Homo sapiens: one gene and its partners. The protein of the gene in region 1 interacts with the protein of each later gene in a pairwise test. Each region holds a gene or a part of one and is shown in the gene's direction. Other genes may lie near its edges.

Region 1 (8,273 bases):
ACCCCCCAAAAAAGAAAGAAAAGTGATTTAGTAAATACAGCCAACAATTCTGTTTCATTTGCATTTAAGTATCTTTTAAAGTTGCCTTTCAGATGAAATAGCCTATACAAGCAAGCATATAAAAATGTACTTAGAACTAGGCTTTAAAATCATTGTATCACAGAGAATTAAACCAGCATGTTCAAAAGTAATCAAGCATATTCTGTTACATTGCTCTCAGTACAAAATATGACATTCTACTGATAGAATGAAAAATAATTTTTACATGATTTTAATCTTATCCTTTCAGGACTCTTTTTCTATAAATACATTTGTAATTTATTAATACAGTATCACATATAACCCAGGAAAATTATAAAACTGGTATGTAACTTATAAATATTTACATATATATATCGAGTGGTTCATCAGATTTTTTTAAATGGCGATATGTAATTTTATTGTAAAGTTCAATAATGATCATACCTGGAAAAAATCTCACAAAGATACGTAGACCCAAATGGAGGTAAATTGATCTAGACCAGTGTCTCTCAAAACTTTAAATCACCAGCATGCTTTTTTGATGATTCCATCTAAGATCTATTGAAAAAAATCCTTAGGTGTGGGAATAGGGCTATGGAGTCTGCATTTTGAGCAGATATAACAGCAAACATTTTATGGTGTTTATTGTGTTTTAAGTGCTGTTTTAAGCACTTTACATTGACTCATTCTTCACAGCAGCCCTATGAGGTATAGGTACAGGTGACTAAGAAATTTGCCCAAGGTCACCTAGTTAGAGTGTAGGGTTAGCATTGTATGTAGAAAACATACCAGAGAATTCTTTTGCATACTTTTGGGAACCATTACTCTAAGTCTAATCTAAGTCATTTGAAATTGGGAAAGCTTTATTCTATAAAATAGTAAAGTTGGGTAGGCGGGGAGAGGGTGATGCATAGTAGTACTTTCCAATTCTAAGGATTTTAAGTCTTTGTCAGTCAACACTGGGTAGCTACTTCATGGATTTTAAGTTCAGCAAAGTGAAGTCCATTTTTTAGCACCATGTTAAAGGTATGTTTTTAACAGAATCAAAGTAATGATAAGGTTTTCAGTTTTATAGATATATAGTAAAAGTGATAAAACCAAATGTGTGTAGAATGGAGATTTTTATGTTTTAATTGAATTTTGGGGTTGTCTTTAGGTTCACTGGGAGGAGAAATCTTGATTTCAATACTTGCTTTTGAAAGTCTTCTAAAGTATATTAGTATACCTTCCTACCTTGATTTATTGAACAAGATGACTCACTGTTTTGAATATTCTCATTGTCCAGTCTTCTGTAAACTTACATGTCGAACCCTAGACTCACCTTGTAAATTAAATCAGAATGAAATTATTAATGAAGTTTTATTTCTTGTTTTTTCCTTTCTCCTAGAACAGTGGTCTCAACGTGGCTGCACATACAAGTCACCAGAGAGGCTTTTAAAAGATGATATCTGTGTCCCATCCCTAGGGATTCTGATTTAATTGGTCTGATTATTCTTACGCGCTAGGGCTGAGAAACCACTGTTCTGTAGGATGTAGGGGAGGAAATTTCTTGGGCTTTTGTTGTTGCTCCCGTAAATTAGGATAATACTAAAAAAAATACTTGAGGTAGGAGTTACTAGACTATAGAGGGAATATTGTACATACATTTTCTGTCAAATTTAAACATTTAACACCTGCATTTTTTATTTCAGATTTATTGCTAAACATGGGTGCATTTTTGGATAAACCCAAAACTGAAAAACATAATGCTCATGGTGCTGGGAATGGTTTACGTTATGGCCTGAGCAGCATGCAAGGATGGAGAGTGGAAATGGAAGATGCACACACAGCTGTTGTAGGTATTCCTCACGGCTTGGAAGACTGGTCATTTTTTGCAGTTTATGATGGTCATGCTGGATCCCGAGTGGCAAATTACTGCTCAACACATTTATTAGAACACATCACTACTAACGAAGACTTTAGGGCAGCTGGAAAATCAGGATCTGCTCTTGAGCTTTCAGTGGAAAATGTTAAGAATGGTATCAGAACTGGATTTTTGAAAATTGATGAATACATGCGTAACTTTTCAGACCTCAGAAACGGGATGGACAGGAGTGGTTCAACTGCAGTGGGAGTTATGATTTCACCTAAGCATATCTACTTTATCAACTGTGGTGATTCACGTGCTGTTCTGTATAGGAATGGACAAGTCTGCTTTTCTACCCAGGATCACAAACCTTGCAATCCAAGGGAAAAGGAGCGAATCCAAAATGCAGGAGGCAGCGTGATGATACAACGTGTTAATGGTTCATTAGCAGTATCTCGTGCTCTGGGGGACTATGATTACAAGTGTGTTGATGGCAAGGGCCCAACAGAACAACTTGTTTCTCCAGAGCCTGAGGTTTATGAAATTTTAAGAGCAGAAGAGGATGAATTTATCATCTTGGCTTGTGATGGGATCTGGGATGTTATGAGTAATGAGGAGCTCTGTGAATATGTTAAATCTAGGCTTGAGGTATCTGATGACCTGGAAAATGTGTGCAATTGGGTAGTGGACACTTGTTTACACAAGGTATGTAAACTTTTTTGTCATTAAAATAACATGTTAATTTTGAAAAGTTACGGTAGGTAAAGTTAAGCTAACTTAAAATTTTAAAACTTTTAATATTTTCACAGAAGCTGTATATTTTGAAGTACTTTACCAGAAATGAAACCATTGTTTTCTTTGCCATCCTTGTTTGTCCCAGCCTTCTAATTTGAAAATTAAGCTTGATAAATTTGAGGCATTTGTTGTCATTTAAGTACTTCATAGCTTGTTGCTGTAGCAAAAGCATTTACACAGAGTGACTTTTTCTTGACATTGGCAGTAACCATCTTATGCCTGATTATGAAGCAGCTTGATAAAATATGTATATAGTAGAATTCTGTACTAGATATTACTAAAAGATCAAGAGCCATGTGAAATATTGGAAGATGTACTAGATGCCTAGCCTGTATAAAATTTAGTCCTGAGCCTCCTAGCAGTGAAGACAAAAACTGAAATAAAAATATGGGTTGTATATTTCTCATTGTCTTCTAAAAGCAGCTCTTATCTGGCAATACAATCTAAAAAGGATTTACATGTGGCTCTCTAAGTAATACATGACTTGGATAGTATCTTTTGTAGAAGATAAAATTCTTTTCATATAGATGTTTTTATTATTTCTGATTAAAAACCAAAGGCTTCTATAAAACATAATCTTGTGAAAAATTCCTGTGGAACACTAAAGTTTATTTAGATTTGTAATTTTGTATGAATCATTGCTTGATACAGTAATAGAAAAAAAGTCCAGAGTAATAGATAATTGGCAATCCTTTGAATATCTTTAAAATACTCAGTTGTTTCAAGTGGGTTTTTGACAGCATCTATATATAATTCAATTAAAATTTGAGTTATCTGGCCAGTGTCTGGAGTGTGTAAGTATTTGACTGAAAAGATACCAAGGTAAAACTGACCTTTAGTTACATGAAATAAATAAAGGGTTTGACTTATTTATTCTGTCTAGATTAGAACCACTGTATCTCCCTACTCCAAAATGTACTGTGGAAGGTATGGGCATAACCAGAAAGTTTTTCAGAAAGGATCTCTGGGTCTCTGGAAATGCCCAGATTTTGGTTAAATACCGATTTCTTTTTAATAGAATGGAAAGAGGCAGTTTTAAAAACAGAAGATTTAAAGGCCGTTCTTGTCAGTGGACAGCCTTTTTCTGAAAGGATTTTAATGATGGTACCTCTAGCTCCTCTGATTTTTATTTTTAACACACTGTATCTTTTTACTTCTGGATGAGTTAAGTAAAGAAGTATTGATGGTTGTCAGTGATCAAATAGTAAGTGGGTCTAAAATTATGTATTTGTCTTTGAACTCTAAATGAAGCAATTCTGACCTGTAGATTTTTGAGACAAGCATAGGCATATGTTTGTTGCCTGACTAGCTAATGAAAACAGCATTTTCCCCAATTATAAAAAAAAGGTATATACTTACTATTGGAAAAAAAATCCAGATGATGAAGAAAATATAGAGAAACACCCAAAATTTTGCCATCCACCCTAAGTCAGCTACTTTCATTGTTGTGGTGTATATTGTTCCAGTCTTTTCTGCCTGCCTGTGAGTGTGTGTATTTTTATAAAACCGAGATGATTATACTTGTTATTCTACAGCCTGCCTTTTCCAACAATATATTGTAGAGAGATCTCCATGCCTATAAGTATTGATCTGTATCATTTTTCTTGGCTGCGTAGTATTTTATTGAAAGAATGAGGTTGTGAGGGAATAGCCAAAAAATCTATTAGGTCTGTAATTTGGACTAAGGAAAGAAGTTTGTGTTAGTAGATTAACTCACTTATCCATTGAAAGGATGCTAGTTTTTGAGAATTTTGACTCGACCCTTCTGAATGAGGTTTAAATATTTCTGGTGGTATATCTTCACTTGCTAGCTTTTATCAATTTAGAGTGATTAAATGTTCATGTTGATGGTGTTAAAAGATTCTAGATGGCATCCTAGAATCTCAGAAATGAGGAATGATAATAACAGACAAGAAGTTGGGGCCCATGATTCATTCAATGTTAATGGAAGCTGACCATCATAGTTCCTTCTAATGGAGCTGCATTCAAATTGAAATCAGTTTGGAGGTTTGAATTGAAACAAAACAGACTTAAAATTATTTTTGAACCTTTGAAAGTTACTTATGGAAACCTTCATTTCTGTTTAACTTCGTAATTTTGTCTTTCCATTTATTTGTATTGTAAAAGCAAGGGTTAGCAATAAGATCAAATATAATTACTTTGAATTTACTCAGAAAAATTGTAAGTTAAAAATTCATGGAAAGCACTTAGCGATTGCACAGTAGTTACCTGCTGTAAGAGGAGAGGAAACATTAATAAGTAGATGTTTCCCTGATAAGAGATTTAAATGAAGTCCTAGTTTTTTCTAACACCTCCATCACTTGTCATACTTTCATAATTTATAAGCACTTTTATCTTAACTCATTAAATCTTGGGAGGTTATCATAATCATAATCGTGGTAGTATTAGTAAATTATTGCTTTCTGTAAGCCAAACACTATTCTAAATACTTTACATATTTTAACTCATGTAATTTTCACAACCATATGAGGTAGTTAAGATGACGAGGTCAGGAGATCGAGACCATCCTGGCTAACGCAGTGAAACCCCGTCTCTATTAAAAAATAGAAAAAATCGGCCGGGCGTTGTGGTGGGCGCTTGTAGTCCCAGCTACTCAGGAGGCTGAGGCAGGAGAATGACTTGAACCCGGGAGGCAGAGCTTGCAGTGAGCCGAGATCACGCCACTGCACTCCAGTCTGGGTGACAGAGCGAGACTCCGTCTCAAAAAAAAAAAAAAAAAAAAAAAAAAGATAAGCATTTTTCAGGGTTGCCAGTTAATATTAATCTGTAAGTGTTGTATGACTGTGGTCAGGTATTATCCTATTTAAATTAGGTATTTAACTCGAGGGGAGAATGGGAGCTAAGAAAGCAACCCTCCCATTTTATTTGCAATGCTGGCATTTATGGTGTTTACTGCCAACTAATTTCGGGTTGCTTAAAATATGTAACTGCCACGTGCATAGCTTTTCATAACTTGTAAATGATACATACTTATTAATCCTCATAGTAACTTTCTGAGGTGAACAAAATAAAAAGTTTTTTTAATTTGCAAGTAAGGAAATGGAGGTTGTTTGATATTAAAAGATATCCATAAGTCATATACTTGGTGAGTATTGAGGCTGAGACTAGTTTTCTGACTCAAGTTTAGTATTTTTGTTAACAATATTTCCCAGAAGGGCCTGATAAAATAAAGAAGAGTGGGTGTGGGTGTGGGTGTGGGTGTGTGTGTGTGTGTGTGTGTGTGTAAGTGTCTGTCTGTTTCGGTTTTCATGGTCTGAGAAATTTTTCCCCAAGGGAAACATTAAGACTAAATTTTTTTTGTAACAAATACAGAGATGTTTGAAGTAAAGTGATTCCCCTTGATGTTTCTGCTTTCCAGTCTCATCTCACTTAGGGAACCACTGCTCATGGTTTGCTGTATATCTTTCCAAATGGTTCTCTGTGATTATTGATAGAAATGTATAAACGTAAAATAGGATTTTTTCTTTTTTTGTATTTTATAGAAAAAGATCATGCTATGTTTGTTACTTTGTCACCTGTTTTGTTTTTCTTAAATTATAAAAGTCGGTATTCTTTTAAATTGTTCTTTTAAAACATTATTTGATTTTCCAAAATTTCATTTATATACCATCTACCAGAAGCCTATTTATTTTAAAACATGAGATAGTACCTCATAGTTGGATAAAATTGAGGGAAATTATCATTTTCCAAAGGCAACATCATTCTATATTAATTTATATAACATAGAAAATGTAACCCCCTCAATAATTGTTTAGTTCTAAACTCAGGAGAATTGCTTGAACCTGGGATGCAGAGGTTGCAGTGAGCTGAGATCGCGCCATTGCACTCCAGCCTGGGCGACAGAGTGAGACTCCGTGTCAAAAAAACAAAAACAAACAAAAAACTGTATCAGATTGTTTTCTGTTTAAGTTTAGATGCCCTTATTTATGGCAGGGGCACTGGCGTCTTTGATCTGGTACTATGATTATTAAGAGTGTTAACTGCTGTGCTGTTGTAAAAAGTAAAAAGAACATGTAATAATCAATTTTTATATGCAGAGCTAATTTCTTTAGTTATCCAAACTGGATTTAGAAAAAAAAATGTTTTATTTATGGACTTAGTGAAAACTTTATACTGATTATACAAGGATGTTTTGTCTCTAAAAAACAATGGCACAAAGGAAAGGACCTTTTCTGTTGCTGTATAACAGCTACTGAAACATATTCATACTTGGTGTTTAGGGGAAAGCCATCTTTACATAGAAATAGAAGCAAGCCAGGCAAGGTGGCTAAGAAGCAACATCACTGAAATCACACATGCCTGAGATGTAAATATAAATTATTTCCCTTAAATGTCTTTGGAGAACCATAAATTTATTGGAACTCTCTTTCAATTAATTTTCCAAAAGTATTTATATTTTATAACTTACAAAAATCGAATGGAAATTAGATAAGGAAATGTTCCACAATGCTCATGTTGTTGTTACCAAAAACTCAAAAGGGTTAAAAGAAATTAGATTTCTAAAAGTGTAAGGTGTTAATTCCGTTTATGCATAAAATTGCTTTATAAAGTGTAATTATGCTTGATTCTTTTTTTGTTGTTGTGTTTTAGAAAGGGTGTCTCACTGTGTTGCCCGGGCTAGTCTCAAACTCCTGGCCTTAAATGATCCTCCTGCCTCAGCCTCCCAAACTGCGGGGATTACAGGCAGCCACCATGCCCAGCTGTTTGATTCTTGAATATCCATGGTGTACTTTAAAATTATTTTTAATTAAAAATTTTTGCTTGAACTGCCCTTATGACATTTATACAAGTATATTCATATAACCAAACACATACAGTATTTCTAATATAAAAGTTTTGGTGGGTTTCATTAAGGAATGAATTAATTTGGCCAATTTGGAAATGGTTTTTCCAGATAACCGGGAATCTAATGAAATACTCAAGTTGGTTCCTTGTTCCAAAGCACAACAATCTGTGACAAGTTAATTTATTTTGAAGTCTTCTGAAGACCCAACCTTCACTGCCTTCAAACTTTACTCCCATTGAATTAGGAGGTGAAGGCAGAAGTTATTCAAGGCCACCTGTCTTTTGGGCTGTGTCATGTAGGTTCTGAAAGGCATAAGTCTGAACCGAGCCATGCCTGCCTAGATTCTAGTCATAATAACTGAAAAGACTAGAAAGGGTGTGGTCTTGGTTTCTTTCACTTGAGTTGGCAAATTTGGCAAACACTATCAGACAAAATAGCCTACCACCTCCACTGACTTTGTTTTTTAGAGTGAACAGAAAAAGAAAGTTTGAAAAAAATCGTTATTCCAAGAACAGTTTCATCTGCTCCTGCTCTTAGAAACTCAGTTAAAGTAATATACCTTTAGAAAAAGTAATGAGAACGTATTTTTAATTGATTGCACATAATCTCATGGTACTAGAGTAGTATATATGATATGCTTTTTTTTTTTTTGAGAGAGAGTCTTGCTCTGTTGCCCAGGCTAGAGTGCAGTGGTGTCATCACGGCTCACTGCAATCTCCACTTCCCAGGCTTAAGCGATCCTTCCACCTTAGCCTCCCGAGTAGCTGGGACCTGGGACTACAGGTGTGTGCCACTAAGCCCAGT
Region 2 (8,283 bases), on another chromosome or scaffold:
CTGGGGCTGGAGGGGCCCAAGCACCCTAGAGATGCCTCTAAGAGGGCCAAGATGGTGGAGGGGCATGTGGCAGAATGGGGGGGTGCCCACTGCAGGGTGAGGCCCAGCCAGGCAGGGGCATCCTTGGGGCTCTGCAGTGCCTACTGTGGTGCCCAGCAGGCAGATTTGGGTGCTGAGTCCCGGCAGCTACACTTGCAGAAACGCTATTATAACTGGCTAATTGGGATTCAGACATCTGCAGGAAGAATTTGGGAAGGTGCTGACCTTGTCCTGACAGCTGCATGTTCCCCACTTTGCCTCCCTCCTCCCTCCCATGCCCTGCACTCCCATCGGGGGTTGAATTGTGTCCCCCCAAAATATGTTCAAGTCCTGACCCTGATACCTGTGAATTGGGACCTCAGTTGGAAGTAGGGTCCTTGCAGCTGTGATCAAGAGGAGGCCAGACTGGAGCAGGGGGTCCTAATGCAATGACTGGGGCCTGATAACGAGAGGAGAGGACGGACACACACACACGCACAGACACACACGCACCTACACATATGCACACACATGCACACACCCCTACATACCAACACAGACACACATATACCAACACACACAGACACACCTATGGATATGCACAGACATGCACACACACCTGTGTACACATACATGCACACATACCAACACACCTACACATATGCAAAGACACATGCACACACACCTACACATGCACACACACCACATATGCACACACATCCACACCAACACACACATGCCTACACATATGCAGACACACAAACCAACACACACCTACACATATGCACACACATACACACCAACACACATGCACACACATGCCAACACACCTACACATATGCACATACACATGCAGACACACCAACACACACACATGCACACACATGTACACATACCAACACCGACACACGTGCCTACACATATGCAGACACACATGCACACACAAACCGATACACACCTACCTCTATGCACATATGCACACACCAACACACGCAACTGAACATGCACACACACATATACCTACCAAGACAGACACACACAGACACACATATACATACCAAGACACACACATCTACACATATGCACAGACACACATGCATACACACACATAGACACGTACACACACACGCACACGACTATGTGACGATGCAGGCAGAGGTTGGGGCTGCGCAGCCACAGGCCCAGGAAGGCCTAGGGCCACCAGTAGCCGGAAGAGGCAGGAAGGACCCTCCCCTGGAGCATCTGGAGGGGGCGACCCCGCCCACACACACACATCTACACATATGCACAGACATATGTGCAGTGGCGCCATCTCGGCTCACTGCAAGTTCCGCCTTCTGGTTTCAAGCAATTCTCCTGCCTCAGCTTCCCTAGTAGCTGGGATTACAGGCGCCTGCCACCATGTCTGGTTAATTTTTGTATTTTTAGTAGATACGGGGCTTCACCATGTTGGCCAGGCTGGTCTCGAACTCCTGACCTCGCGGTCCGCCCCCCTTGGCCTCCCAAAGTGCTGGGATTACAGGCGTGAGCCACTGCGCCCGGCCGATTACTGTTTTTAACAATTTTATTGAGATATAAGTCACATGCCATGAAGTTCACCACTTTAAAGGGTACAGCTTAGTGTTTTAGCATCTTCACCAGGGTGGGCAGCCATCACCTCTAGCTAATTCAGGGAAGTTTCCTCCCCCCAGGAAGACGCCCTGTGCCCCTTCTGCACTGCCCCCACTTGCCCCTCTCCCGGCTCTGGCCCTCCACCTGTGCTCTGTCCCGTGGATTTGTCTGTTCCAGACATTTCATACAAGTGGAATCACACACTCTGTGGCCTTCTGTGTCTTTCACTGAGCATATTTTCATGTGTCATCCATGTGGTAGCATGTGTCATGCATGTTATAGTGTGGTCAGAGCTTTGGTCCTGTGTATGGACCAATACCATTGCATCGTATGGACAGATCACATCCTGTTGATGGTTTATCTGTGGATGGGCATAACTGCTGAGTTTTTGGGTGCCCCCTAAACTTTGCTCCTGAGGTGCGTTCCTCACTCTGGTCTCTAATCCCCAGACCCCCAGGCTCTCTCCTGCCCCTGCCCCCTCTTTTCCACCACACCTGGGCTTCCTGCTGGGTTCTTGGCCTTTTTCCTCTTCGACGGGCAATGCTTCTGCACCGACACTCTCCCAGCCAATCTGGGCTCCTCGGTCAGCTCCTTCTGGGCTCTAGAGAGTCCCAGGGGCGGAGATCATGCCTTCCCCCAGGCCGGGGGATAGCAGACAGCTATGTCTTCAGGGACCTCTTACCCAGAGGTGCTCACTGATCCTGTCCCAGCGTGGGCAAAAGCCAGCACCTGGGGGGCCCCACTAGGGTCACGGTCAGTGGAAGCATCTGAACTCCTGGTTCCAGCGAAATCTCAGAGGGCCCTGTGCTTCCTGGAGAAGGGGTGTCGCTCTGGTTACGTAGGGTGGGAGTGCTGGCTTGGAGCCCAGGGGCAGCTCCTCCCCTGTCCTTCCTGGAGCCCCAAGAAGATCCACAGCTTGAAGCCCCTGAGCTGTGGCCCAGCCACAAGTGTACATGTGTGTGTTCACAGGCAAAACTGAGAGGAGCCAGCCCCTGGTCACAGCAAGCTGTTTCTGGCCCTGGTCATCAAGGCAGGGACACTGAGGGCATGGAAGTTCTGGACAGAAACTCTCCCCAACATGCCAACCAGCAACCACCCACGGCCACTGGCCACCTCCCCCTGCCTAGGTCCAGGTGTCTAGGGCACCTTCCAGGCTGGGCAGAGGAGGGCACTCCCTCCTGAGCTGGGGAGGGGAGGCCCTGACAGGGGACCCAGAGTGGAGACTCATGAGGGTATGCCATACCCTCTGTCCCTCACACTGGAGCACTCCAGGATCACAGCCTGCTGGCACCAACCATCCCTGCCACTGGGTGGGCACTGATCCTCCCAGCCCTCTGGGCTCCCTGAAGACACAGACTGAACGAGGTGGCCCAAGGCCTCTGAGTGCCTCCTGCGGGCAAGGCCCCCTTCAGCCACTCTACCCACGCGGCTTCTTTACCTGCAACGGCAGCCTGGCGGCAGCGCCCCTTAGAACCTTGGCTGGCCACATGATCAGGGCCAGGAAGAAGGCTCTGGGTGCCCTGTCTCCTTCTGCCCCAGGTGCAGTTGGTGTCTTGTCTCCTACAGCCAGGGACCCCTAAGGTCTGAGGGCACAGGGTGGAGGCCCCTTGCTTTGCCTGTTAGGAGGAAACTTCCTACATGAGGGACCCCCTTAGGAAAAGAAGGGTGGGTCCTGGTGCCCATCTGCCCCGTGGCCCAAGCATCCTGTCCTGGTCTCTGCAGGTCCCTCTGCCGGGAACAGGCTCCTTTCTCTCCCTAAAGTCCTAAGAGCCCTGTTGGAGTGGGCGCCTCTCACCTGCTCCACAGCCCCCAACCCCAACTGGGCCTTGCCAAGGGGCTTAGCCATCTGGTCCCAGAATGAGTGAGTGAATGAATGAGTGAGTGAATGAATGAGTGAGTGAATGAATGAGTGGATGAGGGTGCATCAAACTCAACTGCAAGTCTCCAGGACACTTTTTTTGAGACAAGATCTTGTTGTCACCCGGGCTGGAGTGCAGTGGTGCCATCTTGGCTCACTGCGGCCTCTAACTCCCAGGCTCAAGTGATCCTCCCACCTCAGCCTCCCAAGTAGCTGAGACTACAGGTGAGCGCCACCATGCCTGGCTCATTTTTCTAATTTTTGTAGAGAAAGTGTCTTGCTATGTTGCCCAGGCTGGTCTGGAACCCCTGAGCACAAGCCACCCGCCTGCCCTGGCCTCCCAAAGTGCTGGGATTACAGGCATGAGCCACTGGGACCAGCTTCCACTGAACTTTAACTCTCCCGACTCCCACGGGGGCAGGCTGGGGGGACCCTGCCCCGCCCCAACCCTGCAAGGTGGCACTTTGGGCGGGGATGGGGGATCCTGGGAGAAACATAGGGGAAGGGATGGCCCCTCAGCGCCCAGGCCAACCTGCTGCCCTAAGCACCTGGTACAGTCCACGGCAGGTGGAGACTCAGCCAGGTTCTTCCTTCATGGCTGTCGCAGCACGGTACAGGAGCAGGCCTGTGTGCAAAGCCAGCCACCCCCACTCCACCAGCACAGGTGCCACCCAAAGGGCATGGGGTGGGGGGGCGGCTGCCAGCCGCCTCGAAACCTGCAAGTGAGGCGAGGGCCCCTGAGCACCAAGACCCGCCCTGGGTGTGCTCCCGGGTTCCCCCACCTGTCTCCCTGAACCTTTCCACCTAGGAGTACCCCCTCCCCCACCCCGGCGTTCCCTCCGTACCCACTCACGACTTACCATTCACGACTTCCGTTTCCCCCCCCCCCGCCAGCCTCCGTGCCCCCCTCAGCCCCAGGCCGCCGTGCTTCCCGCTCCGGACCATCCCCCCACTCCGTGCCATCCCCGCTCCGTGCACGGCCCCCCGTCCCCCCTCCTCCATGCCTCCCCTCCGTGTCCCCCCTCCAAGCCCCCTTCTGTGTCCCCCACTCCGTGCTCCCCTCTGTCTCCCCCTCCGTGTCCCCCTCTCCGTGCTCCCCCCATGCCACCCCGGCCGCGGAGGGCCCCCCCCTCCCCCGCGCCGCTCCGCGCGCGCTCCCGCCCGCGTTTTCGGACTGCACCAGCGGAGCCCCGCGGCGCCAGGGCCGGGCGGAGCGCCTCGTCTGTCGCCGCCGCCCCCACCGGTGCGGGCTCTGCGGCTGCGGCGGGGGGCGCGGGGCGCGGGGGCCGGCGCGCTCCGCACCTGCGGCGGCCGCTGGGTGATGCGGCGGCTCGGGCCGGGGCCGCGGGCGTCCTGAGCGCAGCGCCCTCCCGGGATGCCCGCCGGCCGCTGGCCCGGCCATGTCGTCGTCCTTCTTCAACCCCAGCTTCGCCTTCAGCTCGCACTTCGACCCCGGTGAGTCCCTGGCGGCCCGGCCTGCGCGCCGCTGCCTCCCTCCGCTGCGGACGTGATGCCCCTGGGCCCCACGGCTCCCGGTTTGCATGGAAATTAACCCTTTCCCCGCCCCGAGCCCAGCAGCAGAAGCAGCCGGACCCCCTGGCGGCCCCAGATCTCGGAGGGGCAGGCCCTGGGCCCCAGCACAAACCGGCCTCCGCCTGTGGGCTGGCGTCCCCCGCGTGGTCGTGACTCCGTGGCTGCCTCCAGGGCACAGGTAACTGGGGCACGGAGGGCCTGCGTGGGCCCCTGGTGTCCAGGAGAGTTGGTCTCAGACTAAGGGCCCTTGGGGGTGTGGGGGGTGTCAGCCAGCTGGGGTTCAGGCTTTCCATGGCCTCTCCTGGGTCCGGGGCCCTGGCGTGGGAGGCTTCTTCCCAGGCTGGGAGCGATTCTCAGAGCCCTGCCCAGCCACCAGCAGCCGGCGGGGGATGTGGGGGGAGCAGGGGCCAGTCCACATTACAGAGCCCAGTGGGCAGAGGCTCAGAAGAGAGGGGCCTTGGTGGGTGCCCAGATCCCCTGACAGTGGGGGCCCGAGGTGACGCTGTCAAGCTGGCTGCAGGGGACCTGAGGCCAGGCCTCTTACCCCGTATGGCCAGTGCACCGGGCAGGGCGAGATTACCCATGGCTGCCTGGCCTCCTGGCTGTGGTGGACAGCTGGGATAGGCAGAGGGGGCTGGGGACAGCTGGAAGCCCCATCTGTCACCAGGAAGCAGTGGGCTTTCTAAAACCTCTGCTTCTCCAGATCCGGCCCCTGCTTGGCCTGAGTGGGAGATAATCCCCCTGCCCTGTGCCATCCATGGCCCCAGGGCCAAGTCCCACCCACACGTCACTGGGGCTCTGGCACCAGGCTGAGCCAGCCCAAACAAAGCCTGTTTGCATGTGACGTGATCTCCTGTGTCTCCTTCCCTGGAGCAGGGCCCAGTGCACGCAGCCTGGCAGGGAGGCACGGGGGTCCCCGGGGCAGATCTCGGTCTGAAGGCATTTGCTCCCTGGAGGAAGGGAGCTGGTGGGAGGTCTGTCTGCTGGGCTTAGGGCTGTGGGTGTCACTTGCTCAGAAATGACTTCCTGTAGTGACCCCTGGGGCTCGGAAGTCCCTGTGGGGTGGGCAGGTGAAGGCTCAGAGCCCAACAGCCACGGCAACAGCTGTAATGTCTCCCCGGCCCAAGGGCAGGGGGTGGAGGAGGCTTGGGGCAGGTCCTCATCACATCTCCATGCCAGGCGTGGCCCACGGTGCTTGGTCCTTTCTGCCCCCAGAACAGAGAGGACCCTCGGCCCATACCCTGCCTCGGGGCCCAGCCTTGTCCTTGGCCATGAGAGGCCCTTTCCCCCGCCTTCGAGCAGCACCGGCTCTGCCCTTCTCTGGGTAAACAGCTGTGATCTGAATAATTCTAATGTGTCCGTTTAATGACTTAGAGGAAAAGAAGTTGTTGGAGGCAAGGGGCGTCTCTCCTCTGCAAGATGCTGGGCCAGAGCTGCAGGCACCTGCTGGGCTCTGGGGCCCACCTACCAGGAGGGGCTGCCCAAGGTGCTGGTGCTGGTGAGGAAGGAGACCCTCCTTCGGATTAAGGGGCTGGGTCTAGGCTCTGCACCAGCCCCCATGAGAGGGTTAGGGAGGAGAGAGGGGTCTCCTGCCCTCCCGCTAAACTTAGCCCAGCCTTCCAAGCCTGGCTGTCCTGTGCTGCAGTCCCTCTGCCTGGCCTTGCCTCTGTGAACCTCGGTTTTCCCATCTATGACATGGGCCGACAGTACCTGTGGCAGGCCCGGGTGGGCTCAGTGCTTGGTGAGCACTTGGCTGTCTGTGCTGGAGTGGTGGTGCTGGGACAGAGACCCCCAGGGCCCAAGCTTCCTACAGCATGTGGCTGGCTCCTTGCCATCCCCGAATTGGAGCGAGCTGGTTCCTTCTGAGGCTGCTTGTGTCTGTGGGGGGGCACCCAGAGGGGAGGGGCCCACGCTTGTGGCTCTGGCAGTTGGCTTGTGTGTCACTCAGCATCTGGGGCAGTGCTAGCACCTGACATGGGGGTCTCACCTCAGTTGCCAGGCCCTGCCCCGCTGCCGGGCCGGCTCCTTGTTCATCGCAGGAACTGGTGCCAGTCTCCATAGAGGTGACGGCAGTTGTGGTGGTACAGGGGGCAGAGACGCCCGATAGTGCAGGGCCTGAGAGTGGAGGCTGTGGGCACAGACTGTGGGCTGCCTGGGCCCCTGACCTTCCGCACCAGGCAGATGCGGGCAGGGCAGGGGGCACCCGGCCCAGGAGCCTGCTTGAGTGCCAGGAAGAGCCGCCTCCTCTGGAGCCCAGCTCTTCCCCCATCTCCCTGACACTCGGGAGCGTGGCTGGGGGATTTCTTGGCAGCTGCAGCCTTCCAGCCTCTGTGCTGTGTGGCCTCGGACTACTCACCCAGCCTCTCTGAGATCCGTTCTGCACATGTGAAATCTTGCTCTGGGGAGACTAGTGTGGGCATGGCGGCCAGGAAAAGCAGGGTGATGGGGGTGACACATGGGCAGGATGGCCGGGTCCAGGCTGGCAGGAAGGGGGTGGCATGGCCTTGAGCGAGCAGAGGTCACCCCTTCTACCTGAGTGCCCCAAGGGAGGGGGCTGGCCTTGTTGCTCACCCTCCCCAGCCTTCACCTTCCCTGGTGCGGCCTCAGGGCGTCATGATTTCTAGTCGTCCTGAGCCCTGGGGCCTGGAGCTGTCCTAGGCTGGAAGTGGGCATGGGGACACCGCCTCGCTCCGGCTTCTGGAGAGGCGCGCTCAGCCTGAGGGTGGGGGTCAAATGCTCTGCACAGTTAGGAGCAGGGGTTTGCCCTGGGGCCACCTCTGGTTTGCTGAGGGGCCCTTCTGTGACTGGCTCTCCATGCCTGTTTTGTCATCTGTAAGGTGGGAATGGCTGTGATGGCCAGGTCTGAAGGGACAGCAGTGGTGCACTGAGCCAAGGGTGGGTACCTGGGCAGTGCCTACCATGGCTGATCCCTGACGCAGAGGTGTCACTGTTGACCAGTGGGCAGGGCTTGGAGTTTGTGGAAGTTCTCGGAACACGTGGCAGCCTGGATTTGCCACCCCCCAACCCCCGCCTCTCCCCTGTCCCTCAGCTCACGCCCTGTCTCCTGCCCAAGGTCTCTCCCTGTGTCTGACCTGAACCAGGCGCCATGGGGGGTTCCTGGGAGAAGTGCCTGTGCCTGGCCACGGTGCTCGCTCTATCAGCATTCATGTGAACCGGACACCTGGCACAGGGCTGGGCAGGCTGGGCCTCAGGATGAGCCTATTGATGGGGAGAGGGCAGAGGAGGCAGCGAGCCCCGGGCCA
Region 3 (8,273 bases), on another chromosome or scaffold:
TGTGTGTGCGCGGGACTGCTTCTGTCTGCTCTGGACCTGGGTGCAGCAGGACAAAGCCTTCAGCTCCCCCTCATCAGCATTGTAACTTCTGTTCTATTTACAGGACTGTGATTAGCTTGGTTTGGGGATGTCCATGTTTTGTCACACATCTTTTTTTAATATTTTACTTCTGTGGCTTTGTGCTTAATGATATGGTAGGCAAGGAGGAGGGACTTTCTGAGCGTGAATTTACATCATTTTGACCAGCCTGGGTTAGATGTAGTGTTTGGAAAGAGAAGCACAGTTGATCCTCATCATTTGCAGATTCCGTAATTGTGAGTTCACCTAATACCTAAAGTCTATTTGTAACCTCCAAATCAATACTTACGGTGCTTTTGTGGCCTTTCACAGACACACGCCCACGGCAGTGAAAAATTTGTGTCCCAGCTGGGGCTAAACAAGGCGATGGTCTGCTCCCTGGTTTCTGCCCTCATATTGTGAACATGTGGCCTTTTCTTGGTCTATTTAGTGCCAAGTTTCTTGCATATTTGGGCTTTTTGTTGGTGATTTTATTGTTTATGATGGCCCCCAGGCACAGCACTGAAGTGGTCTGGTGTTCCTAAGTGCAAGAAAGCTGCGACATGCCTTATGGAGAAAAAAATGTGTGTGAGAGAAGCTTCGTTCAGGCATGAGTTATGAGGCTGTTGGCCATGGGTTCAATGTGAAGGAATCAACAGTACACATTGAATATGGTGTCTTTAAACAGAAACACACATAAACCAAGGTTATGTATTGGTTGGTTGGTGAAAGTATTATGACGAGAGGCTCACAGGAATTTGACTCTGTATTTCCCATAGGAGCAGTGGTTCAGTATTCACTAATTCAGTGTTCCCTGTAGCTTTCTAGAAGATAATTACCGCAGATAACAACCTATTTTAGTAGGTGACAAAAATCGAAACCTTCCCTTGGAAGAGTTCATAGCAGAGCCCCCAGGTAGCCCTTCCTTCCAGCCCTCACTGACGCTTGCTCTTTTGTGACCGCTCTCCTTGGCAGGTTACTTTCTGAATTTTCTGGAGCCAGTAAACAATATCACCATTGTCCAAGGCCAGACGGCAATTCTGCACTGCAAGGTGGCAGGAAACCCACCCCCTAACGTGCGGTGGCTAAAGAATGATGCCCCGGTGGTGCAGGAGCCGCGGCGGATCATCATCCGGAAGACAGAATATGGTTCACGACTGCGAATCCAGGACCTGGACACGACAGACACTGGCTACTACCAGTGCGTGGCCACCAACGGGATGAAGACCATTACCGCCACTGGCGTCCTGTTTGTGCGGCTGGGTGAGTTGGACAGTGAAATTGTGTGGGTTAGCAGATATGAAGGTTCCCAGCCACCGAGCAAGAGGTCCAGTTGCTATTTGAAACTGAACACACACCAGTCAGCACGAGGGGAGAGCAATGAAACCGTTCCCTAGGGCCTTCCCCATGTGCCCCAGGGCCCAGCTTGACCTGTTACCCATTTACTAGTAATAAGAGAAAATAGGGCGAGGCACGGTGGCTCACGCCTGTAATTCCAGCACTTTGGGAGGCCGAGGTGGGCGGATCACCTGAGGTCAGGAGTTTGAGATCAGCCTAGCCAACATGGTAGTAGTTGGCCAGTTTAGTAGAAACTCCATCTCTACTAAAAATACAAAATTAGCCTGGCATGGTGGCGGGCGCCTGTAATCCCAGCTACTCAGGAGGCTGAGGCAGGAGAATCGCTTGAACCTGGGAGGTGGAGGTTGCAGTGAGCCGAGATCACGCCATTGCATTCCAGCATGGGTGACAAGAGTGAAACTCTGTCTCAAAAAAAAAAAAAAAAAAAAAAAAGAGAACAAAAAGAAAATAGGTGCAGATGGAGAGGTTTATGGACCTGGAGCCCAGAAGACAATCCCAGGCACACACGAGGAGCTGAGGTGTTTAGCAGGAAGGCTGTTTGTTAGGAGGTCAGGTGTCAGTGGGAGAGTGGCCACACTGCAGGACGGCTAGGTAGGGCCCGAGGCTGACCTGGCTGGGGTGGGGAGAGAGCTGAGTGCGATGACCAGAGATTCTGAGTCTCTGTGCTCGTCACACCTGGTGAAGGAATTAAGTGGCAGGAAGGACTGTGTCCCCCTTCATCCCACCTGTGAAAAACTCCCAGGCAGCAAACGCCCCGGCCCTGCCACCGAAGCCCACGCCATCCGATCATAAGTAGTAAAACAGATTTTGTGTGTAAAGACTAGATGAGAAGAGAGAGAGTAAGGACAGCAAAAACTCCAAAAACAAAGATATCCTCAGTGACAAAGCACCCCTTCCCTTGTGTGTGGTTTCCAGCCTTGCTGACGTAATCACGAGTGGAGCCTGAGGCCCGAGGACAGCTGCCCACCAGTGAGCCCGCTGGCTTCAGCCTGTTTGCCACTGGCCTGATTTGAAGAAGGTTGTATTCCAAATCATGGAGTATTAATAACTTGTCTTTTTGTTTCCTCTTTTTAGGTCCAACGCACAGCCCAAATCATAACTTTCAGTAAGTATCTGTTTTCCCCAAGCCGTGTTCTGCTGCTCTGAGGGTTTTTGTTATGTAGGAATCCGGGGTTTAAATCCTGCCAGCTCATGTCTTTGCCGAATTTGCTAGAAGTTGGCTGGGCTTCACACAGGGGTGGCCACGTGCTTGCTTAGGGTTGGGAAACATTTACATTTTTCATGTTTCTTGTACAGAAAAAAAGTCAGAAAAACAAAAATGGTTAATTTCTTTCTGTGATTGTGACCTTACACAGGGCTACTGAGAGGAGTATAAATATACAGGCCAGGTTGCCTGGGCACCAGGAAGGATACCGGCTCATTAGGACATTGGGAAACAGGGACGTAATTCACTCTGAAATCCCAGCACTACCAGCTGCAGTTAATAAATGTGTGCCCCTGAGCCTTGGGCCACCCCGTGGCAGTGGGTGGGAGTCTCAACCCCACCTTGCAGATGAGGAGACCGAGGCTCACAGCCAGGCTCACACTCCTTCACGAGCTGCTGACAGCAGTGGCTTTGAACTCAGGCCTCTGGTTTCCCAGTACGAGGTTATTCCACTGTGGCCAGGCTGTCTTGGGAGAGTCCCCTCTGAACTGCCCACACTCTCCCATCGTGTACCCAGAGGAGTGCTCATTCCATTGCCGGTGTTTGAGATGAGCAGTGACTGTCCGGGTTTCCTGCATTTCCTCCTCAGACATATTGGAGAGCAGTGCTTCACTTTGAGATGTTCTGAACAATAGCATGAACACTATATGGTTGGTAAAGTGTGCAGTGTTGGCTGATTTCTGTTTCCCTGGGCCTTGTACCCATTACCCACCCATGATGTGCTGCAACACCACGTTGGGAGGCTGGGCAGGGCAGCGACCTGTCTCAGCAGACATCAGCAGCTTGCTTGCAGAGGGCAGATTTTTTTCCCCCCCCAAATAGACAGGCCTGGCTTTTCACCCAGACTGGAGTGCAGTGGCACGATCACAGCTTACTGTAGTCTTGTACTCCTGGGCTCAGGCCATCCTCCCCCTTCAGCCTCCCAAGTAGCTGGGACTGCAGGTGCGTGCCACCACACACCCGGATAATTTTTTCTTATTTTTTGTAGAGATGGGGTCTCACTATGCTGTCCAGACTGGTGACAAACTCTTGCCTCGAGCAATCCTCCTGTCTCGCCCTCCCAAATCACTGGGATTGTAGGTGTGTGCCACCACACCTGACCTAGAGGGAAGATATTTGGGAAGATTCTGTGCTGAGCAATAGTGATGGAGCATTTTTCCTTAATAGTCCTTCAGACACAGAGTAAGGAAAGAAGAAATTGCATCATGAGCACAATTATGGGGCTTTGGAAAAAGGCATATAAGTCATTTCAAAAGTTGAACTATTGTTCTCTCTTATTTTATATTTATGTCTTTTATTTTAGTTATTTTATTTTTTGAGACAGAGTCTCGCCCTGTCACCCAGGCTGGAGTGCAGTGGTGCAGTCTCCGCTCACTGCAACCTCTGCCTGCCAAGTTCAGGCAATTCTCCTGTCTGAGCCTCGAGTAGCTGAAATTACAGATGCGCACCACCATGCCCGGCTAATGTTTGTATTTTTAGTAGAGACGGGGTTTCACCATGTTGGCCAGACTGGTCTCGAACTCCTGACCTCAAGTGATCCGTCCACCTTGGCCTCCCAAAGTGCTGAGATTACAGGCATGAGCCACTGCACCCGGCCTATATTTATGTATTTTATAAATAAAACTTTTATAGTTCATTTATATATAGTTACATAAATATATTATGTAACTATATAATATATTGTAAATACATAACATATAATTACAGAGCTATAATTATACAAATATTAAACATTCATATATTTATATACAAATTGTAAATATATATATTTATATAAATTATTTCACAATATTTTTACATTGACTTTCTTCTCACTTTAAGTTATGGATTTAATCCACACATTGATGTAAATGACTGGGGCAGTTTCGGAAAGTCCCGCCTGACCTCCCATCCTTCCAGGCCTCCTGCCTCCCTTGTCATAAAGGTAAATCATCCAGGGAGTTTGTAGGCACTCAGTACATACATACATCTACCTAAGGAAATACAAAACAATCAACTTGAAAAAAGGTCTAAAAGCACATAAATTACTCAGTATTATTGAGGCAATGAAGAAATATGCTTACCTATACACTATTGATGAGAAATTTCTGGAGTGCTATTTGACAATAAACACAAAAATATTTTTAAAAAGAAATACCTCTTATCAGTTTTATATACTTTTTTACATAAATGATGCTATACTTGACATGTTTAGTTAACAGTATTCACAGAAATCTTTCCATCTCAGTGTATTTGAGGTTTCCAGATGCTCTCTTTCCCTGTTTCTGGACTCATGTGCAGAGCATGTGACTGTTCCATTGTGACAGGCATTCCCATCAGGGAAGCCTCATCCCAGCCACTCGTGCCACCGCGTCTCCCTTCCCTGGCCCTGAGACCTGTGGCTGGGTTTCTCTAGGAGAGATTCTGAAGAGGAAAAACTAAAGGGGCACAGGCATCCCCTTTTTAAAACTGATACTGCCAAATGGTCATTCGTAGGTTACTTTCCCGACAACGTCAAAGGACCCATTTCTCCTTATCTTCCATAAGATGACTTCCAAACTTGTTAACTTCTGCCACTCTGAAGGATGAAAAATGAATAAATGACCTGCTTTGTTCTCCATTTCCCTGGTTACTAGTGAGGCTGAGCATGTGGACACACATTGCTTGGCACTCATGTCTCCTCTTTGTCAATTGCCACTTCATATTCTTCGCTCATTTTTCCTTTACATTGTTTCTTAATGAATTTTGATAATTCTTTATGTCTTATTTCTTGATCATATAGAAATTAAAACTTTTACAAATTAATAATTTGTTTTTCATGTTATGTCTTGTTAAAGAATGTCATGATTTCCTTGAAAGATTCTGATGGTAGTTTGATTGGAATTACAATGAATTTTTAGGTCAGTTTGGTGAGAATTAATATCTAAATTGAATTTTCTTATCAAGGACTACTTTCCTTTGTGTTTTGAGGTGTTTTCTTTTTCTTAACATTTTATAATGAAAAATTTCAAACATACGGTTGAAAGAATTTTATAGTGGGCTCCTGTATACTCACCAGCTAGATGCTAGCATTTACATTTTACTGTGCTAACTTTATCACTTATCGTTCCATCCAGCCTCCATCTGTCCATCAATCCATCTGATTTTTCATTCATTTCACTGAGTTGCAGATACTTGTACATTTACCCTGAAATACTTCAGCATATATATCATTAATGAGAGTTCAGTATCTGTTTATGATTCTTGCTCCTCCTTCTTCAGTTAAAATTTGCATACCAGTGAAATGCACACATCTTAAGTATAGCACTATAAGGTCTGACAAATGCATAAATCTCTGCAATCGAAACACCCTATCCAGATACAGAATCTCTGTCACGCTTGCAGGCTCTGTCGTGCAACTTCCTAGTCAACTCCCTTCTACCCCAGGCACCCACTATTCTGATTTTTTAAGTAATGGACTAGTTTTTCCTGTTATTAAACATCACAGAAATGAAATCCTTCAGGATGTAGCCACTTAAGCCTGGCGTCCTTTTAGCATAGTGCTTTTGAGATTCATCTGTGTTGTACATGTATCAGTAGGTTACAGCTGTTTATTGCTGAATAGCATTTTATGGTATGAACATACGCGTTGATTTATCCATTCTCCTGTTGAAGGACACCTAAGCAGATTCCAGGCTTGACTACTATGAATAAAGTTCCTTGTATAGGAATACTCTATACTTTTTGTGGACATGCATTTTCATTTCTGTTAGTGTTAACTAGGCGTAGAATTGCTGCATTATAGGGCATGTGTGTGCTTAATTTTATAAGACATTCCTGGGCCTTCTCCTGAACTCTTTTTACCTCCACCCACAGTGTGGGAGACTTGTGATGACTCCACATATTTCCCAACATTGGTGTGGTCAGCCTTTTTAAGTGTAGCTATTCCGGTGTATGCAGTGATTCAAGTGATTTTTTATATCATTCCAGCCTCTTGAAAAAGCAATTTTTACTAGTCATTTTTAAATTTTCAAATAAATGTATTTAAAGCTGTAAAGTTTCCTCTGAATACCATCTCCCTGCTTCCACCACGCATTTAGGCTTCTGTTGTTTGATACTGTTTTCTGATTTTTGTTGCATTATTATTAGTGAATATGGGCTGTTTATGTTTTATTCTTGATAATTTATTGAGATTTTTCTTTGTAACCAGTTAGATACGGTCCATTTTTGTGAATCTTGCCTGTTGTTTCAAAAATACGTGTGCTTTGATGTATCTGCACATTTCTTGACTCATCTGTGAGATTGAGTATTAAGTATGTTATTAAAAATATCTATATATTTTTTATCCACATGAGTACCAGATACCTGAAGATTTGTGAAAGTCACCCACACTCAATCTGGATTTGCTAGTTTCTATTAGTTCTCTATTTTTAATATTTTGTGTGTATTTTAAGGTTATATAGGTTTTTGTGGGGTTTTTTGGTTTCTTTTTACAGTCCCTTTTAGTGCTTTTTGCCTTGAATTCAGTTTTGCCTAACAATAATAGAGTTCCACATGCTTTTTAAATTTGCATTTGCCAGGAACCGTTTTTATGATTCCTGTCCCACTCTTTAGTCTTTCACCTTTTTGTGTTCTGTTTTATGTAGGTCTCTTGTAAATGATGCATAACTAGACTTTTTTTGGGAGGTTGATGTGGAGACCTTTCCAGTCTGAAAGTCCATGTTAATACATAGTTAAATTCATTTTAACTAATATACAGTATTCCATTCTGTGAGTCAGTTTCCACTTGAATCATGCATTGACTGCCGAGTGAAGGTTAGTTCTTTTCACTGATAGGGACCCTCTTATAGTGACTGTGCATCCCAAGTCTCTTTGTCCCTATGGGTGAAAGTCCTCCAGGGACAGAGATCAGGAAGCAGGATTACGGGTGTGCATCTCCCACCTCTCCCAGGAATGGCCAGATTGCCCTCTATGATGGCCAAGTCATTCATAGCCTCACCTGCAACACATGAGTTATTATTTCCTCATGTTTTCTAGCACATGGTATTATCAGAACTTAAAATGTTGCCAGCATCTTAGGTGTCAAATAGTAATTTTACATTACATTTCACCAGTAAATAGTGAGGTTGAACATCATTTTGTCGTTCTAAAAGCCATTGCATTGCCTGTGTGTATCCAGCCTATCCTCATTATTTTCAGATTCCATATTTGCAAATTTGCTTATTCACTAAACTTCGTGTCCCCCAAATCAACACTCGTGGTATTTTCATGGTCATTCTTGGACATGCACAGAGTGGAGAAAAACCTGAGCTCCCTGACACATGTTTCCAGCTGAGACTGAACCAAACTACACTGCCTTCTTGTTCTAGTCCTCATACTGTGAGCACATATCCTTTCTGTCTACTTAGTGTCACGTTTTTCCTATTTGTGTGCTTTCTGTTGGTGATTCTGCTGTTGTAAATGGCTCCCAGGCGTGGCGCTGAAGTGCCATCTGGTGTCCCAAGTGCAGGGAGCTGTGATGTGCCTTACGGAGAAGATGTGTTGTTAGAGGCTGTGCGTTTTCCACGAATCAATAATATACATCAAATAAGATGTCTTTAACCAAAAATGTACATAAAACAAGATGTGTATTGATTGGTTGAAGCAAATGTTTTAACCAGAGGCTCTCAGAAAACTAACTGTATTTTCCCTGGGA
Region 4 (7,175 bases), on another chromosome or scaffold:
GTTAATGTAATTTAGTTACGTTTCATATATAGTGTATAATATAATATATTCACATTGGCTCAAAATTCTAAAAAGAGTATTAATGAATGAAAAATCTCCCCAACTCTTTCACTTTGGAAAAGAGTTGGGCATTATTTTGTATAGCTAGAGATATTCATATTCTAGACTTCGTCTTAGGTATCTTAGAGAAACTCATACATGTGTACACTTATAAAAGTGTTCATAATAACGCTGTTCTTAATAGCCCCAAACTGGAAACAACCCATTGGCATTAGAATTAAAGTATGAGGCCAGGCGTGGTGGCTCACGCCTGTAATCCCAGCACTTTGGGAGGCTGAGGCAGGCTGATCACTTGAGGTCAGGAATTCAAGACCAGCCTGACCAATGTGGTGAAACCCCATCTCTACTAAAAATACAAAAATTAGCTGGGTGTCATGGTGGGCACCTGTAATCCCAGCTGCTTGGGAGGCTGAGGCACGAGAGTCACTGGAACTTGGGAGGCAGAGGTTGCAGTGAGCTGAGGTCATGCCACTGTACTCCAGCCTGGGTGACAGAGCAATACCCTGTCTCAAAAAAAAAAAAAAAAAAAAAAAAAAGAATTAAAATATGAGATGTTTATAATGAAAAACAGACCATGTCCAGTGATTTAAAAAAATTAACCTGGCTGGCCCAGTGGCTCACACCTGTGATCCCAGCAGTTTGGGAGGCAGAGATGGAAGGATTGCTTGATCCCAGGAGTTTGAGACCAGCCTGAGCAACATAAGGAGACCCCCGTCTCTACAAAAAAATACAAAAATAAAAAAGGCTGGGATTGATGGTACACATTTTTGTCCCAGCTACACAGGAGGCTGAGTTGGGAGGATCACTTGAGTCCAGGAGGGCGAGGCTGCAGTGAACCGTGATCACCATCACTGTACTCCAGCCTGGGTGACAGAGTGAGACCCTATCTCAAAAAATAAAGGCCGGGCACAGTGGCTCATGTCTGTAATCCCAGCACTTGGGAGGCTGAGGAGGGTGGATCATGAGGACGAGATCGAGACCATCCTGGCCAACATGATGAAACCCCATCTCTACTGAAAATACAAAAATTAGCTAGGCGTGGTAGTGCGCGCCTGTAATCCCAGCTACTTGGGAGGCTGAGGCAGGAGAATCACTTGAACCCAGCGGGGTGGAGTTTGCAGTGAGCCGAGATCGCACCACTGCCCTCCAGCGTGGGTGACAAGAGCGAGACTTGGTCTCAAAACAAGCAAACAAACAAAAGAATCTTACAATGTTGTGAAAAAAAAAAAAAATCCAGGCACAAAAGAGTATACATTTTGTGTGCTTCCAGTTTTAATCTGGCTCTGAAACAGGCAAAATGGAATTATATTATCTAGGAACATGTAAGTGGTAAACTACAAAGAACAAGAAAGAAATTATCACAAAAGTCAGGGTAGTGGTTACTCCTTGAGGGGAGGGAGAACATATGGTTGGGAAGGAACTCTTGAGTGCTAGCATTGTTGGATTGTGGTTTTTTTTTTTTTTTCCCACAAAAAAATGTAAGCCAGAAGTTTTCTTACCTTTCTACCTTCTAGCCTCCAGTTCCGTTCCTTGGAGGCAGCCAGTCATATGGGTCTATATGCCTTAACACATACACACACGTGCGTGCACACACACAGACACACACGCTATATATATATATATATATATATATATATATATATATATTTTTTTTTTTCTTTTTTTTTTTTTTTTTTTAATAGAGTCTCACTATGTTGCCCAGACTGGTCACAAACTCCTGAGGTTAAGCAGTCCTCCTGCCTCAGCCTCCCAAAGTGCTGGGATTACAGGCATGAGTCACCATGCCCAGCATACACACACATATTTTTAACACAACTAGTAGAAAAGATAGACTTTTGAAGTAAAATGAAAAAGAAACAACCCATAAAGATATCATCTAAGATCAGGCATGGTGCCACTCACCTGAAATCCCAGTGCTTTGGGAAGCTAAGGCAGGAGGATCGCTTGAGGTTAGATATTTGAGACCAGCCTGGGCAACGTAGCTAGACACCGTCTCTACCAAAGAAATATATATATATATTTTTTGAGATGGAGTTTTGCTCTTATTGCCCAGGCTGGAGTGCAATGGCGCAATCTCGGCTCACCACAACCTCCGCCTGCTGGGTTCAAGCGATTCTTCTGCCTCAGCCTCCCCAGTAGCTGGGATTATAGGCATGTGCCACCACACCCAGCTAATTTTTGTATTTTTAGTAGTGCTGGGTTTATCCACGTTGATCAGGCTGGTCTCGAACTCCCAATCTCAGGTGATCCACCTGCCTTGGTAAAGAATTTTTTTTTTTAATTAAAAAGTAAGCTGGGGGCTGGGCGCAGTGGCTCATGCCTGTAATCCCAGCACTTTGGAAGGCCGAGGCGGGCGGATCACAAGGTCAGGAGATCGAGACCATCCTGGCTAACATGGTGAAACCTCGTCTCTACTAAAAATACAAAAAAATTAGCTGGGCGTAGTGGCAGGCACCTGTAATCCCAGCTACTCGGGAGGCTGAGTCAGGAGAATGGCGTGAACCCGGGAGGCAGAGCTTGAAGTGAGCCGAGATCATGCCACTGCACTCCAGCCTGGGCAACAGAGCAAGACTCCGTCTCAAAAGAAAAAAAAAAAAAGTAAGCTGGGCATGGTGATGCACAGCTATAGTCCTAGCTACTTGGAAGGCTGAGGTGGGAGGATTGCTTGAGCCCAGGAGTTTAGAGGCTGCAGTGAGCTGTGATCATGTCACTGCACTCTAGCCTGGGTGACAGAGCAAGACCCTGTCACTTGAAAATAAAAAATATCAGCTATGATTTCTGCCCACTTATTTTTCACTGGACAAGTGGTTACTATGTATGTGCCCTTAGGCCCATGTGCCACTCACTTAATCTGGCACTTGCTGTGTGTCAGCATGGTGTCAGGCACTTTAGTTTGCTTAGTTCAGTCTTCTAACAACCCAGGAAGGCAGGTACTGTTATTATCCCCATTTTACAGAGAAGGAAGCTGAGGCTGTTGTGCTTCTGGGCTTCCTACGCAGCACACCAATAGTGTTGAAACGCTACCAAGGGTTGTGTTGAGGGTGGTCATCTTGATGCCTATTCCTGGGCTGCTCTAACAGGCCCCTTTATCTCTCCAGGTGGCCCTATGCACCCAGGTAGCCCTGGGCATGGAGCACCTGTCCAACAACCGCTTTGTGCATAAGGACTTGGCTGCGCGTAACTGCCTGGTCAGTGCCCAGAGACAAGTGAAGGTGTCTGCCCTGGGCCTCAGCAAGGATGTGTACAACAGGTAGAAGGGCATGCGTGGGGTGGGGGCTCCCCATTTTTTCCCAGAGGGTGAGGGGCAGAGGACAGATAGTTTGGGGGGTGTGGGAAAGGGTTTAGTGCCTGCTTAGTCCAAAGCTGGAGGGCCTGGGATAGGGAAGAGCTTTCTCATCCTTTTTCCAAGGGTGCAGCAGGCTTCCCACCCAGTGCACACCCTTGGTGGTTGTAAAATGTCTCTAGCGATTAAATAAATAAATAAACCTTTTTTAAAAAATAGGCAAATTTGATAAGGATTTATATATAATCTATTTATATGGCTCTCTCTGTAACTTCCTGAATTCAGTCATTATTATTTTGAAGTCTGAGACTTATGCCTCAGCACCCATGCCAGAGCTTGCTCTAGACAGCCTACGAGGGCTCTGCAGCGCTGCCGGGAACATCACCCTGAGTCCCTCTGGTTCCAGGTCACCCCCATTTGTCTGACTATAGCTGTAGTGAGGATTGGTTTATCACTAATAAAGCTCTTTCCATTTAACAGTTCTTAGTTTTTACATTTTTACAACCAATATAGAAAGTATGTATGACTATTAACTTTTCTGTTAACATTTAGGCAAAGTTTGATTCTTAATGGAAATTTTTTAACCATCAAACCTCTCGTGTGGTTACCTCCAGATTTTGTCTAGTGTACTCCCATGCTCAGCACGCATGTGACCAATTTCTTGATGTCTGTATGTAGAAAGGCTGGGCCCCCGGCTTGGGGATGCGTTCCAGATGGGGAGATGAGGGTGCAGCGCCAGGCCACGCTCCCACCCCACCTCACCCCTGGGTTGCTTCTCTCCTGCAGTGAGTACTACCACTTCCGCCAGGCCTGGGTGCCGCTGCGCTGGATGTCCCCCGAGGCCATCCTGGAGGGTGACTTCTCTACCAAGTCTGATGTCTGGGCCTTCGGTGTGCTGATGTGGGAAGTGTTTACACATGGAGAGATGCCCCATGGTGGGCAGGCAGATGATGAAGTACTGGCAGGTAGGCAGCCTTGCTGCTAGGGGATGATTCCAGATGGGCCCCAGATGGGGCCTACTCAGGGCCCCAGGGCTGGTTCAGCCTACCTCCCTCTCAGGGCTGCTACTGAGCAGGCACACAGATACAACCACTCTGGTTGTTAAAATACTGCAATACTTTGTTTTTCTTTTGAGACGGAGTGTCGCCCTGTCGCCCAGACTGGAGTGCAGTGGCCCGATCTCCGTTCACTGCAACTTCTGCCTCCTGGGTTCAAGCGATTCTCCTGCCTTAGACTCCCTAGTAGCTGGGATTACAGGCACGCACCTCCACTCCCTGGCTAATTTTTGTATTTTTAGTAGAGATGGGGGGGCTTCACCATGTTGGTCAGGCTGGTCTCAAACTCCTGACCTTGTGATCCACCCGCCTCGGCCTCCCAAAGTGCTGGGATTGCAGGCGTGAGCCACCACACCTGGCCGAAAATACTGCAATACTTCTATATTGGTTGGTAAATAGCCTTTGCCCCCAGTGCCCACTCCAGCCACTCTGACGCCTGTCCGCCAGCCCACTTCAGCTCCTATGCATGGACCCCGTCCTACCAGCCAGAGTGAGTGGGGCCAGGGGAGTCATCTTTTTCCGTTGCGGGTACCCACCTGCCGCTGGCCAGCATTGCCCCAGAGGCATCCTTGGGTGGCTGCTTGTATAAACTGCAAGGTCCACAAAGTGTTGAACAAGTTGTTGAATGTTTTGGCCAACACTGCACCTGCTGTCTTCCCTACAGATTTGCAGGCTGGGAAGGCTAGACTTCCTCAGCCCGAGGGCTGCCCTTCCAAACTCTATCGGCTGATGCAGCGCTGCTGGGCCCTCAGCCCCAAGGACCGGCCCTCCTTCAGTGAGATTGCCAGCGCCCTGGGAGACAGCACCGTGGACAGCAAGCCGTGAGGAGGGAGCCCGCTCAGGATGGCCTGGGCAGGGGAGGACATCTCTAGAGGGAAGCTCACAGCATGATGGGCAAGATCCCTGTCCTCCTGGGCCCTGAGGCCCCTGCCCTAGTGCAACAGGCATTGCTGAGGTCTGAGCAGGGCCTGGCCTTTCCTCCTCTTCCTCACCCTCATCCTTTGGGAGGCTGACTTGGACCCAAACTGGGCGACTAGGGCTTTGAGCTGGGCAGTTTTCCCTGCCACCTCTTCCTCTATCAGGGACAGTGTGGGTGCCACAGGTAACCCCAATTTCTGGCCTTCAACTTCTCCCCTTGACCGGGTCCAACTCTGCCACTCATCTGCCAACTTTGCCTGGGGAGGGCTAGGCTTGGGATGAGCTGGGTTTGTGGGGAGTTCCTTAATATTCTCAAGTTCTGGGCACACAGGGTTAATGAGTCTCTTGGCCCACTGGTCCCACTTGGGGGTCTAGACCAGGATTATAGAGGACACAGCAAGTGAGTCCTCCCCACTCTGGGCTTGTGCACACTGACCCAGACCCACGTCTTCCCCACCCTTCTCTCCTTTCCTCATCCTAAGTGCCTGGCAGATGAAGGAGTTTTCAGGAGCTTTTGACACTATATAAACCGCCCTTTTTGTATGCACCACGGGCGGCTTTTATATGTAATTGCAGCGTGGGGTGGGTGGGCATGGGAGGTAGGGGTGGGCCCTGGAGATGAGGAGGGTGGGCCATCCTTACCCCACACTTTTATTGTTGTCGTTTTTTGTTTGTTTTGTTTTTTTGTTTTTGTTTTTGTTTTTACACTCGCTGCTCTCAATAAATAAGCCTTTTTTACAACCTGTTTCTGAGATTCATTCCCTGCTCTTGCTCGTGGAAGATGTTCCTTTTTCCCCCGCTGATGAGAAGGGGCCGTGTGCAGGCCGGGTGCAGTGGCTCATGCCTGTAATCCCAGCACTTTGGGAGGCTGAGGCCAGTGGATCACCTGAGGTCAGGAGTTCGAGACCAGCCTGGCCAAAAAGGTGAAACCCCTGTCTCTACTGAAAATATAAAAATTAGCTGGACATGGTGGCAGGCGCCTGTAATCCCAGCTACTTGGGAGGCTGAGGCAGGAGAATCGCTTGAACCCAGGAGATGTAGGTTGCAGTGAACCGAGATCACACCACTGCACTCCAGCCTGGGTGACAGCGAGACTCTGTCTAAAAAAAAACAAAAAAAAAAAGAGAAAAATGAAAGGGCCATGTGCCTTCATGGAGTCTGGTGGGGCTTGGACAGGATGAACCGGTGGATATTGGTTCTTCTCTCCAGTTTGCAGGGCAGGTGAGCATGCAGGCATGAAGAAGGCAAGATCACCTGTTGTCTGTGCAACCCTGTGCTGTCCTCTGACTGTCACCTAGACGGGCCTAATCCTTGTGCTCAGATGGGGAGGGTAGAAGCGTGAAGGGGAGCAAGTTAGAGTAGGATTGGAGAAGGAGTTAGTGACAGACTCAGGTCTCTGAGTCCTTTCAAGACCCTAGGAGGGAAGTGAAGTAGGTAGAACCAAGCAGAGAGACGGTGCTTAATGCCTGGATCTTGTGTCCTCACCTATCCTCTGCCTCATTCCAGTAACTTCAGCCTGGTTCACCATCCAAAAGAAACGAGTCCTGAACTCCAAAACTGCTCTAGTTCCTTTACTCCTCACCAAACTTCTGAATAATAAAAATAACAGCAGGCTGGACATGGTGGTTCACACCTGTAATCCTAATACTTTGGGAGACTGAGGCAGGAAGATCACTTGGGACCAGGAGTTTGAGACCAGCCTGGCCAACATAGTGAGACCCTGTCTCTACAAAAAATTTAAAAATTAGCCAGGTGTGGCGACATGCACTTGTAGTCCTAACTACTGAGGAGGCTGAGGCAGGAGGATCATGTGAGCCCAGAAGTTTGAGGTGGCAGTGAGCTATGATCACAACACTGCA

The links.
Region 2: the proteins of PPM1B (region 1) and AATK interact in a two-hybrid assay, tested with the Homo sapiens proteins (one study listed by BioGRID and IntAct).
Region 3: the proteins of PPM1B (region 1) and ROR2 interact in a two-hybrid assay, tested with the Homo sapiens proteins (one study listed by BioGRID and IntAct).
Region 4: the proteins of PPM1B (region 1) and PTK7 interact in a two-hybrid assay, tested with the Homo sapiens proteins (one study listed by BioGRID and IntAct).

What each region holds. Positions count from the first base shown.
Region 1 is NC_000002.12:44,199,474-44,207,746, forward strand, and holds part of PPM1B (protein phosphatase 1B), read left to right. Parts: intron 1-1,712; 5' UTR 1,713-1,726; coding exon 1,727-2,572; intron 2,573-8,273.
Region 2 is NC_000017.11:81,162,597-81,170,879, reverse strand, and holds the start of AATK (serine/threonine-protein kinase LMTK1), read left to right. Parts: upstream 1-4,658; 5' UTR 4,659-4,887; coding exon 4,888-4,942; intron 4,943-5,132; exon of another isoform or gene 5,133-5,373; intron 5,374-8,283. UniProt on the Homo sapiens protein: May be involved in neuronal differentiation.
Region 3 is NC_000009.12:91,750,319-91,758,591, reverse strand, and holds part of ROR2 (tyrosine-protein kinase transmembrane receptor ROR2 isoform 1 precursor), read left to right. Parts: intron 1-1,032; coding exon 1,033-1,320; intron 1,321-2,490; coding exon 2,491-2,521; intron 2,522-8,273. UniProt on the Homo sapiens protein: Tyrosine-protein kinase receptor which may be involved in the early formation of the chondrocytes. It seems to be required for cartilage and growth plate development. Phosphorylates YWHAB, leading to induction of osteogenesis and bone formation.
Region 4 is NC_000006.12:43,155,659-43,162,833, forward strand, and holds the end of PTK7 (inactive tyrosine-protein kinase 7 isoform a precursor), read left to right. Parts: intron 1-3,158; coding exon 3,159-3,310; intron 3,311-4,129; coding exon 4,130-4,308; intron 4,309-5,062; coding exon 5,063-5,223; 3' UTR 5,224-6,057; downstream 6,058-7,175. UniProt on the Homo sapiens protein: Inactive tyrosine kinase involved in Wnt signaling pathway. Component of both the non-canonical (also known as the Wnt/planar cell polarity signaling) and the canonical Wnt signaling pathway.